2 separate regions of the Homo sapiens genome follow, and region 1 is linked to region 2. Evidence: fine-mapped expression QTL. A gene starts in region 2. The other region holds a variant in brackets. All regions are shown on one strand. Distances are between the middles of the regions. Region 1 overlaps SMARCA4 (SWI/SNF related BAF chromatin remodeling complex subunit ATPase 4). Region 2 holds the start of C19orf38 (chromosome 19 open reading frame 38).

Evidence for each region. PIP is the estimated chance that this variant, and not a neighbour inherited with it, causes the effect.
Region 1: its variant is fine-mapped to the expression of C19orf38 in whole blood (INTERVAL, PIP 0.95).

What each region holds. Positions count from the first base shown.
Region 1 is chr19:10,973,881-10,982,208 of GRCh38, forward strand. All of the region lies in intron 1 of SMARCA4 (SWI/SNF related BAF chromatin remodeling complex subunit ATPase 4), which reads left to right. Among named protein-coding and RNA genes, the nearest start is that of SMARCA4, 17 kb to the left of the region's middle. RefSeq lists an enhancer at 3,266-3,958. The variant A/AAT (reference allele first, on the strand shown) is at 4,900.
Region 2 is chr19:10,843,703-10,852,030 of GRCh38, forward strand. C19orf38 (chromosome 19 open reading frame 38) reads left to right here and starts at 4,713. Exons shown (of 7, transcript NM_001136482.3): 1 at 4,713-4,837; 2 at 6,557-6,865. The coding sequence starts at 4,807.

The sequences.
Region 1 (8,328 bases), 130 kb after region 2:
TTATAGACCACCGAGGGGAACATTTTGTTTTGTAGTTCACGCATAGTAAACGGGGCTGGCTCTGCGGAAGCCATCCTGCCCATTGCTGTTGTTCCGCCCAAGCCTCTGCCATAACCTGACTCCCACGTTGGTCTGCTGCTGAAATGTGTCCGTGAACAAATTTCCCCAAGCCCCAAAAAACACAATAGCAGATATCCTGGGACCAAACTTAAATATAATGCTAGTTTCTCATGCAAGGTGAAAACAACCACCATAATTCCAACAAACAGATTTCCAAGGGATCCGATTGCTGGTTAGCAACCTGCCCTGCCTGGGGCTGGTCACCGCAGTGCTTTAAGACAAAAGCTAGGGGTGGCGTGAAAGAAGAGACCAGACCTCTTCTCTTCCTCAAGCAGTCTCCTTCCACATTTGAACGTCAACAGATGTTTCTATTTTAGATGATAATTTTGATGAAGTTGAAAATAATGAGAACATGGTAGTTCTCACATCCTTTGATCTTTCTCTTTTATTTCCACAAAGACACTTCCTGGGCATTTCTTGTGGGTATTTATTTCATGGGTATTCTGATTTAGGCTTTTTTTTTTTTTCTTGGAAGTTTTTCTTTAAAAATCTGAATATAAAAAGTAATAGATGGCTATTGTAAAAAATAAATAAAAAGCGCCAGACATCTGTGATATGGAAAGGGTAAGTTCCTCATCACATGCCATCAGAGAGAGCTACTGGCTGTGCTGACAGCGGTTTGTGCATGTTTTCTTTGGGGTAATTTCTATGCATGGATTAACATGCATATATATATATATATATATATATTTTTTTTTTTTTTTTTTTTTTTTTTTTTTTTTTTGAGACAGAGTCTTGCTCTATTGCCTGGGCTAGAGAGCTGTGGTGCGATCTTGGCTCACCGCAACCTCTGGCTGCTGGGTTCAAGTGATTCTCCTGCCTCTGCCTCCCAAGTAGCTGTGATTACAGGTGCCCACCACCACGCCTAGCTAACTTTTGTGTTTTTGTAGAGATGGGGTTTCACCACGTTTGCCAGGCTGGTCTCGATCTCAGGTGATCCGCTCGCCTCAGCTTCCGACAGTGCTGGGATTACAGCTGTGAGACACCATGCCCAGCCATATGCATATATAGTTATTCTTTTTTTTTTTTTTTTTTTTTTGAGACAGGGTCTCTGTCGCTCAGGATGGAGTGCAGTGGCGTGATCTTGGCTCACTGCAACCTCCGTTTCCTGGTTCAAGTGATTATCGTGCCTCAGCCTCCTGAGTAGCTGGGACTACAGGCATGCACCATTACCCCTGGCTGACTTTTGTATTTTTACTAGAGATGGGATTCTGCTATGTTGGCCAGGCTGGTCCCGAACTCTTGGCCTCAGGTGATCTGCCTTCCTTGGCCTCCAAAGTGCTGGGATTATAGGCATTAACACCATATCCAACCTTACTTTTTTTTTTTTTTTTTTGAGTGTTTCTCTGTTGCCAGGCTGGAGTGCAGTGGCGCGATCTTGGCTCACTGCAACCTCCACCTCCCGGGTTCAAGCGATTCTCTTGCCTCAGCTTCCCGAATAGCTGGGACTACAGGCCAGCTCCACCACGCCCAGCTAATTTTTGTATTTTAGTAGAGATAGGGTTTCACCATGTTGGCCAGGGTGGTCTCAAACTCCTGACCTTGTGATCCGCCCACCTTGGCCTCGCAAAGTGCTGGAATTGTAGGCGTGAGCCACCACGCCCAGCCTCTCAATTCTTTTTTGATGTGCCAAGACTTCTGCAGCGTGGGTTGTGTGGGGGTTCTGATTGCTGGGCAATTGAGGAGCTTCTCAAGAAATTGAGGCAATATGGCCACACCACTTCTAGACCCTTTGGCCCAGGGAAAGGGTTAACCTCCTGGACTTTTAACTGAGTGTTTTACATCTTAGCTTTTAGATTCTTGTGCCAGAGTAGTTTCACTTCCGGTCATTCCTTCTGGCTGCTGGCCTGGATTCCCAGGCTCTGTTTTCTCCTTGTGGAGGCCCCGGCAGCACCCGATCCAAGGGCCGCACACATCTGGATTTGGCTTCCACACGCTGTACTAACTATTCTTGCCCTTTTGGCCCCTGAATCCCCTCATCCTTTGCTTTTTCCACCTGAGTAGGTGTGGCCTCCTGGTCTGCAATGGATTTCATTGCTGCGTGAATTTCCCCTGCTAGTGACTTATCATTGAGGGCCCCATTGCAGGACTCTAAGCGGCACCGTGTAAGACACCTTAGGGACGACCTTTGGCCACCCCAGGACTTTGCTGAAAATGCCAAATCCTTCGTTTCCTGTATAGAAGGGCAGGGATGATTGGCGATGGGGTAAGAAGGGGTAGAGAGAGAGGTGTTCCTTGTCCTTAGACACCTTTCCTGGCCGTGCTCGTTTGGCCTTCCCGTGTAGACATCTCGCCGGAGCAAGGTGCACCCAGCCCCACACCCCATCCAGCTTCTACAGGGCTGGCCTCACCCCAGCCCTTCAGGGAGGGTGAGCTGGCCAGGAGGAGGTTGAGGGCTGAGAACAACACCATGCTTATGGCTGTGGGAGCAAGGAGGGATAAGAGATGTTTGTGGGTCAGGCACTGTGGCTTGGGCTAGGTGCGGTGGCTCATGCCTGTAGTCCTAGCACTTTCGGAGGTTGAGGTGGGCGGATCACTTGAGCCCAGGTGTTTGAGACCAGCCTGGGCAACACGGCGAGACCTCATTTCTATAAAGAAATACAAAAATTAGCTGGGCATAGTGGCATGAGCCTGTAGTCCCAGCTACTCGGGAAGTTGAGATGGGAGGATCACTTGAGCCCAGAAGTTCAAGGCTGTGAGCTGTGATGGCGCCACTGCATTCCAGCCTGGGAGACAGAGCGAGACCCTGTCTCAAAAAAAAAAAAAAAATTGGGCCGGGCGTGGTGCCTCTCATCTGTAATCCTAGCACTTTGGGAGGCCGAGGCAGGCGGATTGCCTGAGCTCAGGAGTTTGAGACCAGCCTGGGCAACATGGCAAAAACCCTGTCTCTACTAAAATACAAAAAAATTAGCCAGGTTCGGCAGTGTGCGCCTGTAGTCCCAGCTACTCGGGAGGCTGAGGCAGGAGAATCGCTTGAACCTAGGAGGCGGAGGTTGCAGTGAGCCAAGGTCGCACCACTGCGCTAAGCCTGGGTGACAGAGCGAGACTCTGTCTCCAAAACAAATAAATAAACAAATAACAAGAACAAAATTCTTGGCAGCCGGCCAAATCTGTGTGCATTGCTTGCCAGGGTGGGCGTGTCATGGCTGACAGCAGGTCCTGGATCGCACCTAGGGGTTTGCTGCTCTCCAGCCAGCTGCTTCTACCTGATGCGCGCCCAAGAGGGGAAGCCAGTCTGTTGTTCCTGAGCATTGCGGGGCAGGAGTGTTACCTGCGGTTTGTGCTGGGGGGAGGCTGCGTTACGGACTCGAGTTTTTTTTTGTTTTGTTTTTGTTTTTTTTGAGATGAACTCTTGCTCTGTTGCCCAGGCTGGAGTGCAGTGGTGTGATCTCGGCTCACTGCAGCCTCTGCCTCTCGGGTTCAATCAATTCTCCTGCCCCAGCCTCCCGAGTAGCTGGCATTACAGGCATGCACCACCATACCCAGCTACTTTTTGTTTTTTAAGTAGATACGGGGTTTCACCAAGTCGGCCAGGCTGGTGTTGAACTTCTCACCTCAAGTGACCCGCCCGCCTCGGCCTCCCAAAGTGCTGGGATTACAGGCATGGGCCACCATGCCCAGCCCATGACTCAGTTTTCTCATTTCTGTTCAGGGAAAGGAGCCTCTGCTTCACATTTTGATGGGAGCATCTGAGGACCTCATCTGTGTGATGCTCCTAGTGCGATACCTTTCACGTGCTAAGCAGCTGCTCAGTAAACCTGGGGAGAGATGGGGCACCTTGGTTTCACCAGCTGAGCGGCTGGCACTTCCTGCCTGTGAGTGATGGTTCGATGTTCCAGCCTGTGGAGGAGGAGGTGGAGCCACAGGGAGGTTACCCGTGAGGCAGGTGGCACCGTGGCTTCACAGTCCATGTTCAGAGTGTGGGATGCATGGCAGTGAGTTCCACTGTGGCCTTGGCCTTGTGACCTGAACTCTTCCACTTCCCTGTCATCTGTCAGCTGGCCAGCAGGACCACTGTAGTCCCTGTGTGGTGGTGAGGGCCCAGTGCGGGGAGTCTCAGTTGTTACCATCAAGTAGGCTGAGGCCCCTACCTCCTGGCTAGATCTTCCTTCCTTGCCATTTCTTTGTGACTGAGACATCCTCAGCAGTTGTAAATCACAGGGAGGTGAAGGCAAGCCACAGTCCCCGCTGGATTTGCAAATATCCCTTCCCTTCCTCTGTCAGCATGACCTTACGGTAGACGAGGATTTCTTAAATAGGACCCCAGAAATGTTAAACCTCAAAGACCAAACTTGATGAACTGGCCTTCATTAGAATTAAGAGCTTCTCTCTCTTTTTTTCTGTTTGTTGAGATGGAGGTTTACTCTTATTGCCCAGGCTGGAGTGCAATGATGTAATCTCGGCTTCACTGCAACTTCCACCTACCGGGTTCAAGTGATTCTCCTGCCTCAGCCTCCTAAGTAGCTGGGATTATAGGCATGCACCCACCACGCCTGGCTAATTTTTGTATTTTTAGTAGAGACGGGTTTTACCATTTTGGTCAGGCTGGTCTCGAACTCCTGACCTCTGCTTGCCTCGGCCTCCCAAAGTGCTGGGATTACAGGTATGAGCCATCACGCCCGGCCGATACTTTCTACTTTTTAAAAGTGGATACCGGCCACATATGTGGTGGCTCGTGCCTGTAATCCCAGCACTTCTGGAGGCTGATGCAGGTGGATCAGGAGTTCAAGACCAGCCTGGCCAACATGGCGAAACCCCGTCTCTACTAAAAATACAAAA[A/AAT]ATATATATATATATATATTTTAGCCAGGTATAGTGGTGCGTGCCTGTAATCCCAGCTACTCGGGAAGCTGAGGCACGATAATCGCTTGAACCTAGGAGGCGGAGGTTGCAGTGAGCCGAGATCACGCCACTGCACTCCAGCTTGGGTGATGGAGCAAGACTCTGTCTCTAAATAAATAAATAAATAGATAGATAGATATCTCAATAGCCAGTAAGCATACAGAAAGGTGCTCCGTGCCATTAGTTGTGAGGGACATGCAAATGAAGACCATAAGAAGATGCGATTGGACATTGGCAACATTGTTAAAAGTTGTAAGGACTGACAGCAGCAAGTGTTGGGGTTGATGAAGAGCACCTGGAATGCTGTCCCTGTGTGGGAGGTGGGACCGTGTGTGTAGATGATACAACTATTTTGGAAAACTAGCAAAGCTAAGTTTATGCCTCCCTTTATAACCACCAGTTTCATTCTTGGACACCCAAGAAGAACCAATGCATGTGTTCACCAAATGACTCTCATAGCAGCTTGATTTGTGCTGGCCAGAACCTGGTAGAGTACAATGTCTATGAAAATGAGAATGCTCACATAAAAAGAACGGATGACTCTCCCAGACATGGTGACCCTGTGTGATTGTCTTTTTTTTTTTTTTTTGAGACAGGGTCTTTCTCTGTTGCCCACGATCATGGCTCACTGCAGCCTTGACCTCCTGGGCTCAAACAGTTCTCCCTACTCAGCCTCCTGAGTATAAGCTAATTTAAAAAAAAAAACTTGTAGAGACAGGGTCTTGCTATGTTGCCTAGGCTGGTCTTGAATTCCTGGACTCAAGCGATCCTTCTGCCTTGGCCTCCCAAAGTGCTGGGATTATAGGTATGACCCACTGCCCCCAACATTATATTATTTATATGTTACATATATTATATGTTATAAGTATATATTGTATATTATATAATATATGTATTATAGACGTGACCCACCACACCCGTCATTTTATTGGAAGTTCAATAACAGGTGAAAGGAAGCCACAGTGATAGTCAAAATAGTGGTTTCCCTGGGAGAGTGGTATTGACTGGGGGGGCCCAAGAATGCCTTCTGGAACGTCAGGAGGGATGTCTGACGCAGTGTTCTTCAAGCTGTTCACCTATGATCCTGCGATCAGGGCATGTACAAGTCAGTGAGAGTAAGCAGAATCACACGCTGCTCCCCTCAGTACTGAGCTGAGGACGTGGAGTCGCTCCACGGCTCTCCACTTTGTGCTGCAAGTCGGCCAGTGCTTGTTCAAGTGCAGGCACCAGCAACCTCATCACAGGCTTTGGCACTGGGCGATACTGCTGGGGATGGCTTTGCATCACTCCCGGGCTGTTGGGATCCCCTTTACTGTCACTCTGCACGTGTCTGAGCTTTCAATCCGGAAATGAATTTGCGGATGCTGGTGGCACCCGCGTTCCTGTTTCACTGCAGCCTGACTCTAGAGGCAGCATTTTCAGGAGGAGAGGCCATTCTAACAAGCCTCTGTGAAACCCCGTGCTTCTAAAAAGCAGACTTGCCTTATTCGGGCACAAAATGGTTTTTTGGGGCAGCATCTTCAGTGTACTCTGTTTTTCCGTTGACAAAGTTAGCGCTGCTTTGAGTTGGAGCCGTTCCTGGAGGCTGTGACGGCATCGCATGATTTGATGGAAGGGAGAGGGGAGAAGTTCTAATGCTCAGTGTAAAGTACGATTAGGTGGCATACGCCTGTAGTCCCAGCTACTCGGGAGGCTGAGGCATGAGAATCGCTTGAACCCCGGGGACGGAGGTTGCAGTGAGCAGAGATCATGTCACTGCACTCCAGCCTGGGCGACAGAGTGAGACTCTGTCTCAAAAAAAAAAAAATGTACAATGAGGAGAGCTATAATTTCAGTCACTTCCCAGTGTATGCTCGTTGGCTTGTCCACCTTCAGAGAGGGAAAAGATGGTTTGCCCTCAATGACCTGGATCTTTTTCTCTTTTTCCTCTGAGACAGCGTCTCGCCCTTTTGCCCAGGCTAGAGTGCAGTGGTGCGGTCATGGTTCACTGCAGCCTCAACCTCCTGGACTCAGGTAACCCTCCCACCTCAGCCTCCCAAGTAGCTGGGGCTACAGGCATGTGTCACCAAGCATGGCTAATTTTTGTATTTTTTGTAGAGATGAGGTTTTGCCATGTTGCCCAGGCTGATCTTGAATTTCTGGGTTCAGGCCATCCCCCTGCCTTGGCCTCCCAAAGTGCTGGGATTACAGGCGTGCTGGATTGTATTTTGCTGTCAGTTTCAGTTTATTTGACTTAGAATAAAGACCTTCAAGTGAGGAAGAAGCTATAGGTCCCTGAATATCACAGGATCTATGAAGTATGTGGCAGTCCTGCTGTCCCTTTTCCTACCTCATTGCAACACTCTGTGGACCTGAGAAGACTGTGGGGACAGAAGGCCCAGAGGGGAGCGCCAAGGAGCCAGTGCCTCCCCCTGCCCTGGCCGTGCCCACGTTGCTGGGCTTCCCACCTATGGAGGTAGCTGCAGGCGCATCCTCCCTGCAGACATACCCATGGACCAGAGGCTTCAGGCTCCAAAATCAGCATCTTAGTAACATAAACGCAAGGTTCAGACTGTTGTCACATGGCAGAGGCCAGGGCGGCATCTCATAATCAGACAGATCCTGTTTCTGTAGCAGAATGTGCGAATATCCACACGGAGCAGAATCAGGTCAGATTTTGCCTCCAGATGAATTTCCTTGCAGTAACACATTTAGGTTTGTTTATGTCAGGGGCCATCTTTTCAGGATTGGCTGGAGTGCCAGCCACTGGTTCCTCCCCTGCTGAGTTTCCTGGTCCTCTCTCCTGCTGTTAGCCATGAAAGTGGAATGAGGTCATTTTGAGCCTTTCATCTCTTGTCTAAGAATATATCCCTATGGCTGGGTGCAGTGTCTCACACCTGTAATTCCAGCACTTTGGGAAGTCCAGGCTGGAGGATCCCTTGAGCCAGGATCAACAAGTGTTTGAGACCAGCCTGGGCAACATAGAGAGACCCCTGTCTCTACAAAAAAATTAAGAAAAATTAGCCAGGCATGGTGATGCACTCCTATGGTCCCAGCTACTCGGGAGGCTGAGGCAGGAGGACGGCTTGAGCCCCCGAGGTCAAGGCTGCAGTGGGCTATGATGGCTCCACTGCACTCCAGCTTGGGTGATAGAGTAAGACTCTGTATACAAAACAAAAACCCCTACCTTTCAAATTAAAACTTTTTCCGCTAGATCACCTAATACAATGTAATTTTTGGCCAGGAACGGTGGCTCACACCTGTAATCCCAGCACTTCGGGAGGCCAAGGCGGGTGGATCACCTGAAGGTCAGACGTTCGAGACCAGCCTGGCCAATGTGGTGAAACCCCGTCTCTACTAAAAATAAAAAAATTGGCCTGGCGTGGTGGT
Region 2 (8,328 bases):
TGTCAGGTCAGATGATTGAGAAATATTTATGATGTGCCAAGCATGGTGGGAGACACGGGACACTGCAGGTAACAACACAGACCCCATCCTTGTGCTCCGAGAGGAGGAGGAAAGCTGTGTTAAGATATCATGAAGGCTGGGCATGGCGGCTCATGCCTATAATTCCAACACTTCGGGAGGTGGGCGGATCATTCGAGGTCAGGAGTTCAAAACCAGATTGGCCAACATGGTGAAATCCTGTCTCTACTAAAAATCCAAAAATTAGCCAGCCGTAGTGGTGCATGCCTGTAATCCCAGCTACTCAGGAGGCTGAGGCAGGAGAATCACTTAAACCCGGAAGATGGAGGTTGCAGTGCAGCCGAGATTGCGCCACTGCACTCCAGCCGGGGCGACAAAGTGAGACCATGTCTAAAAAAAAAAAAGGCTGGACACGGTGGCTCACGCCTGTAATCCCAGCACTTTGGGAGGCTGAGGTGGGTAGATTACGAGGTCAGGAGTTCAAGACCAGCCTGACCAACATGGTGAAACCCTGTCTCTACTAAAAATACAAAAATTAGCCAGGCATGGTGGCACACGTGTAATCCCCGCTACTCAGGAAGCTGAGGCAGGAGAATCGCTTGAACCCAGGAGGTGGAGTTTGCAGTGAGATGAGATCGCACCACTTCACTCCAGCCTGGGTAACAGAGTGAGACTCCGTCTCAAAAAAAAAAAAAAAAAAATTTAAAAAGCTAGGCGTGGTGGCTCACGCCTGTAACCCCAGCACTTTGGGAGGCCAAGGTGGGAGGATTGCTTGAGCTCAGGAGTTCATGACCAGCCTGAGCAACATAGCAAGACCCTGTCTCTGTTTAAAAAAAAAAAAGAAAGGCCGGGTGCAGTGGCTCACGCCTGTAATCCCAGCACTTTGGGAGGCTGAGGCGGGCAGATCACAAGGTCAGGTGATCAAGACCATCCTGGCTAACACAGTGAAATCCCGTCTCTACTAAAAAATACAAAAAATTAGCCGGGCGTGGTGGCGGTTGCCTGTAGTCCCAGCTACTCGGGAGACTGAGGCAGGAGAATGGCGTGAACCCAGGAGGTGGAGCTTGCAGTGAGCCGAGATTGCGCCACTGCACTCCAGCCTGGGCGACAGAGCGAGATTCCATCTCAAAAAAAAAAAAAAAAAATGAAGGAGGCTGGGCGTGGTGGTGGCTTACGCCTGTAATCCCAGCACTTTGGGAGCCCAAGGTGGGAGGATTACTTGAGCCCAGGAGTTTGAGACCAGCTAGGCAATGTAGTGAGACCCTTTCTCTACAAAAAAAAAAAAAAAATTTAGCCAGGTGCCGTGCATGCCTGTGGTCCCAGCTACTTGGAAGGCTGAGGTGGGAGGATCACTTGAGCCTGAGAGATGGAGACTGCAGTGAGCCATGATTATACCACTGCACTCCAGCAGCCTGGGCAAGAAAGCAAGACCTTGTCTCCAAAAAAAAAAAAAGGCATGAGGATGAATTCAATAAATTCAAGAATATTCTGTGTACTACCTTGACCAAATTGTATTAATATTTAGAGAATATTATACCAAACAACTACACCGTGTACTTGAATTTCTAGCGTACGTACAATGTGGATCGAGATACCCTGCACCATTCTAAAAAGTCAGTACATTTCAAAGTATTGAAATTATATGACCACAAAGGAGTTAAAAATCATTAACAGTAAGCTGCCCCCCAAAAAGCCCAAGTACTTGGGCATTAAGCAACACACATATTCTCTGGATCATAGAAAAGAAAGCACAATGGAAATAAGCAAATATTTCTAACTTAATGACGCTCAATATATGAAAATGTGTGGCATGCAGTTAAAACAGTTCTTGGAGGGAAAGGTGTACCTTTAAATGCTTGTATTAGAAGATAAAGGTGGGCCGGGTGCGGTGGCTCACGCCTGTAATCCCAGCACTTTGGGAGGCCGAGGCAGGTGGATCATGAGGTCAGGAGATCGAGACCATCCTGGCTAACATGGTGAAACCCCATCTCCACTAAAAATACAAAAAATTAGCCATGCATGGTGGTGGGTGCCTGTAGTCCCAGCTACTCAGGAGTCTGAGGCAGGAGAATGGCGTGAACCTGGGAGGCAGAGCTTGCAGTGAGCCGAGATCACGCCATTGCACTCCAGCCTGGGCGACAGAGCAAGACTCCGTCAAAAAAAAAAAAAAAAAAGAGGGTTTAAAGTTAATGAGCTGCCTGTAATCCCAGCACTTTGGGAGGCTGAGTCAGGAGGATTGCTTGAGCCCAGGAGTTCAAGATCAGGCTGGGTAACATAATAGGACCCTGTCTCTACAATTTTTTTTTTTTTAATTAGCCAGGTGTGGTGGTGGACACCTGTAGTCCCAGCTACTCAGGAGGCTGAGATGGGATGATCTCTTGAGCCCAGCAGGGTGAGGCTGCAGTGAGTCATGATCATGCTGCTTCACTGTAGCCTGAGCAATAGAGCAAGACCCTGTCTCAAAAAAAAAATGTTTTTTTGTTGTTTTTTTTTTGAGACAGAGTCTCGCTCTGTTGCCCAGGCTGGAGTGCAGTGGCATGATCTCAGCTCACTGCAAGCTCTCCTTCCCGGGTTCACGCCATTCTCCAGCCTCAGCCTCCCGAGTAGCTGGGACTACAGGCACCCACTACCACATCTGGCTAATTAAAAAAAATTTTTTTTTAATAAAAAGAGTTTATATAAGCATCCATCTTAAGAAGCTATTAATACAAATTTCTGCTGGTGAAGTTTAAATTTAAAAACAAAACATGAGCTAGGAAAAGAAGAGCCAATTGAACATAAGGTAACCAGAAAAAAGAAAAGAATAAAGTCAAGTCAAAAGGCAATAAAATAGAAAATAAAACAACAAATCCAAACTGTGGCACTTTGAAAAGATCAATAACAATGATTAGCTCCTAGGAAGACCGATAAGAGACAAGGAGACTTCACTAATTTATGTGTCAGGAATGAAAGAAGGAACATCACTACAGACCCTACAGACATTAAAAGGATAGTAAGGGGATATAAATAACTTTACACCAATACATTTGACAACTCTGATGAAATGAGCAAATTCCTTGAAGATACAAGCATGCCAATTGCAATAAAGGAATATTACAGGGCACTGTGGGAGAATTTAGCTAGGGGATTGTTCTAAGTCCAGAGGGGCCTGGAAAGTTTTCCCAGAAGTGCTATTTAAACTGAGACCTGAAGGAGAAGCAGGATTTGACCAGGTTGACAGAATTGTGTTCCAGGCCAGGGAAATAGTGTGTGCAAAGGCCCTGAGGTTGGATTGAACTTTCTGTGTCCAAAGAAAAAAGTTTACTCTAATGACGCATTTTGGTGTTTGATGACCACATGCCACATCCTTCTTGGGTCCAAACCCCCAAGCAAACCTGACTGGCTTGAACAGAAATGTTTAAAAAGATAAATGCAAACCCAGTAGTAAGAGAAACTTGGAAGTTTCTGGGCTGTAAACAGGAGGCAGTTTATCCTGTGAACTATATCACAAACTATATCCAGAATTGATCTGGAACTGGTATTCCCTTTCATGTGGCTGATCAAACTTCTGAGTCTTTTTCCTCCCTGTAACTTTACCTTGTGAGCATGCACTACCCACTAGGCGTTGCATTTCCTACTACAAGTTCTTTGAATCTAATGTCCACTGCTCTTTTTTTTTTTTTTTTTTTTTGAGATGGAATTTCACTCTTGTTGCCCAGGCTGGAGTGCAATGGCGCGATCTCAACTCACCACAATCTCCATCTCCTGGGTTCAAGTGATTCTCCTGCCTCAGCCTCCCGAGTAGCTGGGATTACAGGCGTGTGCCACCACGCCCGGCTAATTTTTTGTATATAGTAGAGACGGGGTTTCACCACGTTGGCCTGGTCTCGAACTCCTGACCTCAGGTGATCTGCCCACCTCAGCCTCCCAAAGTGCTGGGATTACAGGCGTGAGCCACCACGTCTGGCCTAATGTCTACTACTCTTAGCCCCATTCTGCAGAGCAGTATACTGAAGCCTCAAAGGAGGTAAGCCATGCCTGAGGTCACAGAGGCCAAGCCCTAACCACCATGTCCTCCCACTCCTGCCCATATTTGTTTAAATGTTGGTGCTGGTTAGGCTATGGTTTGTGTCTTGGGCATGGGTTTCCAAACATCCCACTGCTGTCACCCTGTCTCATTCCCAGGAGTTCTCTTAGAAGGAGAGACAAAAGGCTGGGCACGGTGGCTCACGCCTGAAATCCCAGCACTTTGGGAGGCTGGGGCGGGCAGATAATGAGGTCAAGAGATCGAGACCATCCTGGCCAACACAGCAAAACCCCGTCTCTACTAAAAATACAAAAATTAGCTGTGCATGATGGCTCCTGCCTGTAGTCCCAGCTACTCAGGAGGCTGAGGCAGGAGAATCACTCGAACCTGGGAGGTGGAGGCTGCAGTGAGCCGAGATCGCTCCACTGCACTCCAGCCTGGGCAACAGAGCAAGACTCTGTCTCAAAAAATAAAAATAAAAAAAGAGGAAAAAATTGTGAAAACCACCTAAACATCTCATCCATTTTTTTCCCCTCTAATCTGCAGAACCGCAACCAGAGAGGTGCGCGGGTCTGATGTGTGTTTGGGGAAGGGGTGGGGAGGGGAGAGAGTCCCTTTCAGTGCCCAAGCCTGTGTGTGCAACTTCCTGCCAGTGAGGAAACTCTCAGCTCGAGAATCAGCCCTGGTTCTCCTTTCCCCGATCTGGCCTCACAGGAGGAGTTGGCGGGGAGCCTTGGGCCCCTCTGGCCTCAGCCGGATTTCCCAGCCAAACGCAGAGAGAGATGCCCTGGACCATCTTGCTCTTTGCAGCTGGTGAGTCTGAAGCCCCCCTCTCAGATCCCCCACGCCTTTCCCCCCATCCTCTGTCCACCTTGCCGCTCCAGGGGCAGAAACCAGTGCAGGGGCTGCCGTTCTCAGGGCATCGAGGAGGCTGAGCCCTTGGCAGATGGGTTTTCCCCCTGAGCCTTGGAAACTCTCCAGTAGTGTTGGTTTTTTCTTCTTAGGCTCCTCATCACCCCCAAGTTTATGAATATCAGAAATATCACCCCTCTGGAGTCAGCTGTGCCCACACCCCATGATTCAGCCCCGCTTCGTCTCTGAAGGCTCCTTGAGTGCTGGGGCAGCAGGAGGGTCTACCTAGGGGGATATCAGTGTGGCAGGGGTGGGTGGGGGTTGGAGGCTGGACGAGGGAGGGTTTGTATAGACCTCACCTGGCCAGACACTCTGCTCAGAAGCCTGTGGGCAATCAGGAGAGAGATGGATCCCCAGGAGACCATCCTGCAGGAAGCCGTGCTCCAAAATCCGTATTCTTCACCCAAGCCTGGGAAAGGAGATAAAAGTCCTCTGCCCTTCCTTCTCCTGCCCTCCCTCTCACTCACCCCCTCCCCTTCCTGCCACCCACCTCACTCACCCCCTCCCTCCTGCCATGATGGCCTCCTTGCTGCTCCTTTTTTAATATTTATTTTTATTTTTAAATAGAGACAGGGTCTCACTGTGTTCTCCAGGCTAGTCTCAAATTCCTGGGCTCAAGCAGTCCTCCCACCTTGGCCTCCCAAAGTGCTGGGATTACAGGCGTGAGCCACTGCATCAGGTGTTTGCTCCTCCTTAAACACCCCCATTCCCCTTCCATCCCCTGGACCTTTGCCTATGCTGTTCCCTCTGTTGGAATGCCCTTCCCCAGCTCTCCAAATGGGTCCTTCCTCACCACTCAGGACTCAGCTCGTGGGAGGCCAAGGTGGGAGGATCACTTGAGGTGAGGATCTGGGCAACATAGTGAGATCCCATCTCTACACAAAATAAGCAAAATTAGCTAGCCAGGTTCACCAGCCTGGCCAACATGGTGAAACCCCGTCTCTACTAAAAATATAAAAATTAGCCAGGCATGGTGGCACATAGTCCCAGGTACTCAGGAGGCTGAGGCCACTGTACTCCAGCCTGGGCGACAAAGCAAGATTTTGTCTCTAAATAAATAAATAAAGTAATAATAAATTAAATAAAAAATAAGAGTATAGTTGTGTTGCTATGTAATAACCAATGCTATTATTGAAAACTGATGGCCAGGCATGGTAGCTCACGCCTATAATCCCAGCACTTTGGGAGGCCGAGGTGGGGGGAGTCACACGAGGCCAGGAGTTCGAGACCAGTCTGGCCAATATAGTGAAACCCCATCTCTACTAAAAATATAAAAATTGGCCAGGCATAGTGCCACATGCCTGTAATCCTAGCTACTTGGGAGGCTGGAGAATCACTTGAACCCGGGAGGTGGAGGCTGTAGTGAGCCGAGATCACACCACTACATTCCATCCTGGGTGGCAGAGTGAGACTCCGACTCACAAAAAAAAGAAAAAAGAAAAGTAATTCAACTACAGGGAGCCGTCACCATGTGCCAGGCAGTGTGGGGTAGGGTCACTAGCCTCCTGACTCACAGAAAACACAAGGCTGAGGGAGGGTGGTCTACTTGCCCGAGGCCACATAGCCAGGGCAGCCTCCACTCTCACCACGCACCCACCCACCTTACCCTCTGCATTGCAGGCTCCTTGGCGATCCCAGCACCATCCATCCGGCTGGTGCCCCCGTACCCAAGCAGCCAAGAGGACCCCATCCACATCGCATGCATGGCCCCTGGGAACTTCCCGGGGGCGAATTTCACACTGTATCGAGGGGGGCAGGTGGTCCAGCTCCTGCAGGCCCCCACGGACCAGCGCGGGGTGACATTTAACCTGAGCGGCGGCAGCAGCAAGGCTCCAGGGGGACCCTTCCACTGCCAGTATGGAGTGTTAGGTGAGCTCAACCAGTCCCAGCTGTCAGACCTCAGCGAGCCCGTGAACGTCTCCTTCCCAGGTAAGGCCCTTCTATGGGATCTCACTGCCGGGGGCTTAATTTTCTCACATGGACCTCTTGTGTGTACTGTTGACTCAGAGGCCTTCCCAGAAAAAGCCAGGCTTACACCCTGCCAGGACTTACTCGCCTTTCCTTTTTCAATCTTCTCAGCCAGCCCAAAAGGGGATTTGTTGGTTCACTGAGCTTAAGTCAGCTCACAGGGCCGACTTCAGGTATGGCTAGATCCAGGTGCTGAAAGCTGTCAGGGACCATTTGCCCCATCTCTGCTCCACATTCTTCTCCGTCTTATTGTCAGGCAGCCCGTCTCCCTCTTGGTGCCAAAATTGGTGCTGTGATTCTTCCCATTTTGCAGATAAGGAAACTGAGGCACAGGAGGTACACACCTTGTACACAGGTAACAGGTAGCCAGTCTGGGATGCCATTGCCTTCCAAAAACCATGAATTACACCTCCGTGACATACATTACTTCCCCTCTTGGCCACATACTTTTTTTGTTTGTTTGCTTTGAGATAGTTATGCTCTTGTTGCCCAGGCTGGAGTGCAGTGGCACGATCTTGGCTCACTGCAGCCTCTGCCTCCTGGTTCAAGCGATTCTTCTGCCTCAGCCTCCTGAGTATCTGGGATTACAGGTGTGTGCCACCATGCCCGGCTAATTTTTGTATTTTTAGTAAAGACAGGATTTCACCATGTTGGCCAGGCCAGTCTCGAACCCCTGACCTCATGATCCGCCTACCTCAGCCTCCCAAAGTGCTGGAATTACAGGCATGAGCCACTGCACCTGGCTTTTTTTTTTTTTTAAATGAGACAAGGTCGTGCAGACTAGAGGGCAATGGCACAATCATAGCTCACTTCATCCTCCAATTCCTATCCTCAAGTGATCCTCCCACCTCAGCCTCCTAAGTAGCTGAGACTACAGGTGTGCACCACCATGCCCAGCTAATTTAAAAAATTATTTTAGAGATGAGGGTCTAAAATGTTGACCAGGGCCGGACATGGTAGCTCATGCTTGTAATCCCAGTACTTTGGGAAGCTGAGGTAGGTGGATCACCTGAGGTCAGAGCTTAAGACCAGCCTGGCCAACATGGTGAAACCCTATGTCTATTAAAAATACAAAAAATAGGCTGGGCGTGGTGGCTCACGCCTGTAATCCCAGCACTTTGGGAGGCCGAGGCGGGTGGATCATGAGGTCAGGAGATTGAGACCATCCTGGCTAACAAGGTGAAACCCCGTCTCTACTAAAAATACAAAAAATTAGCCGGGCGCGGTGGCGGGCACCTGTAGTCCCAGCTACTCGGGAGGCTGAGGCAGGAGAATGGCGTGAACCCGGGAAGCAGAGCTTGCAGTGAGCCGAGATTGCGCCACTGCAGTCCGCAGTCCGGCCTGGGCGACAGAGCGAGACTCCGTCTCAAAAAAAAAAAAAAAAAAAATACAAAAAATAGCTGGGTGTGGTGGCATGCGTGTGT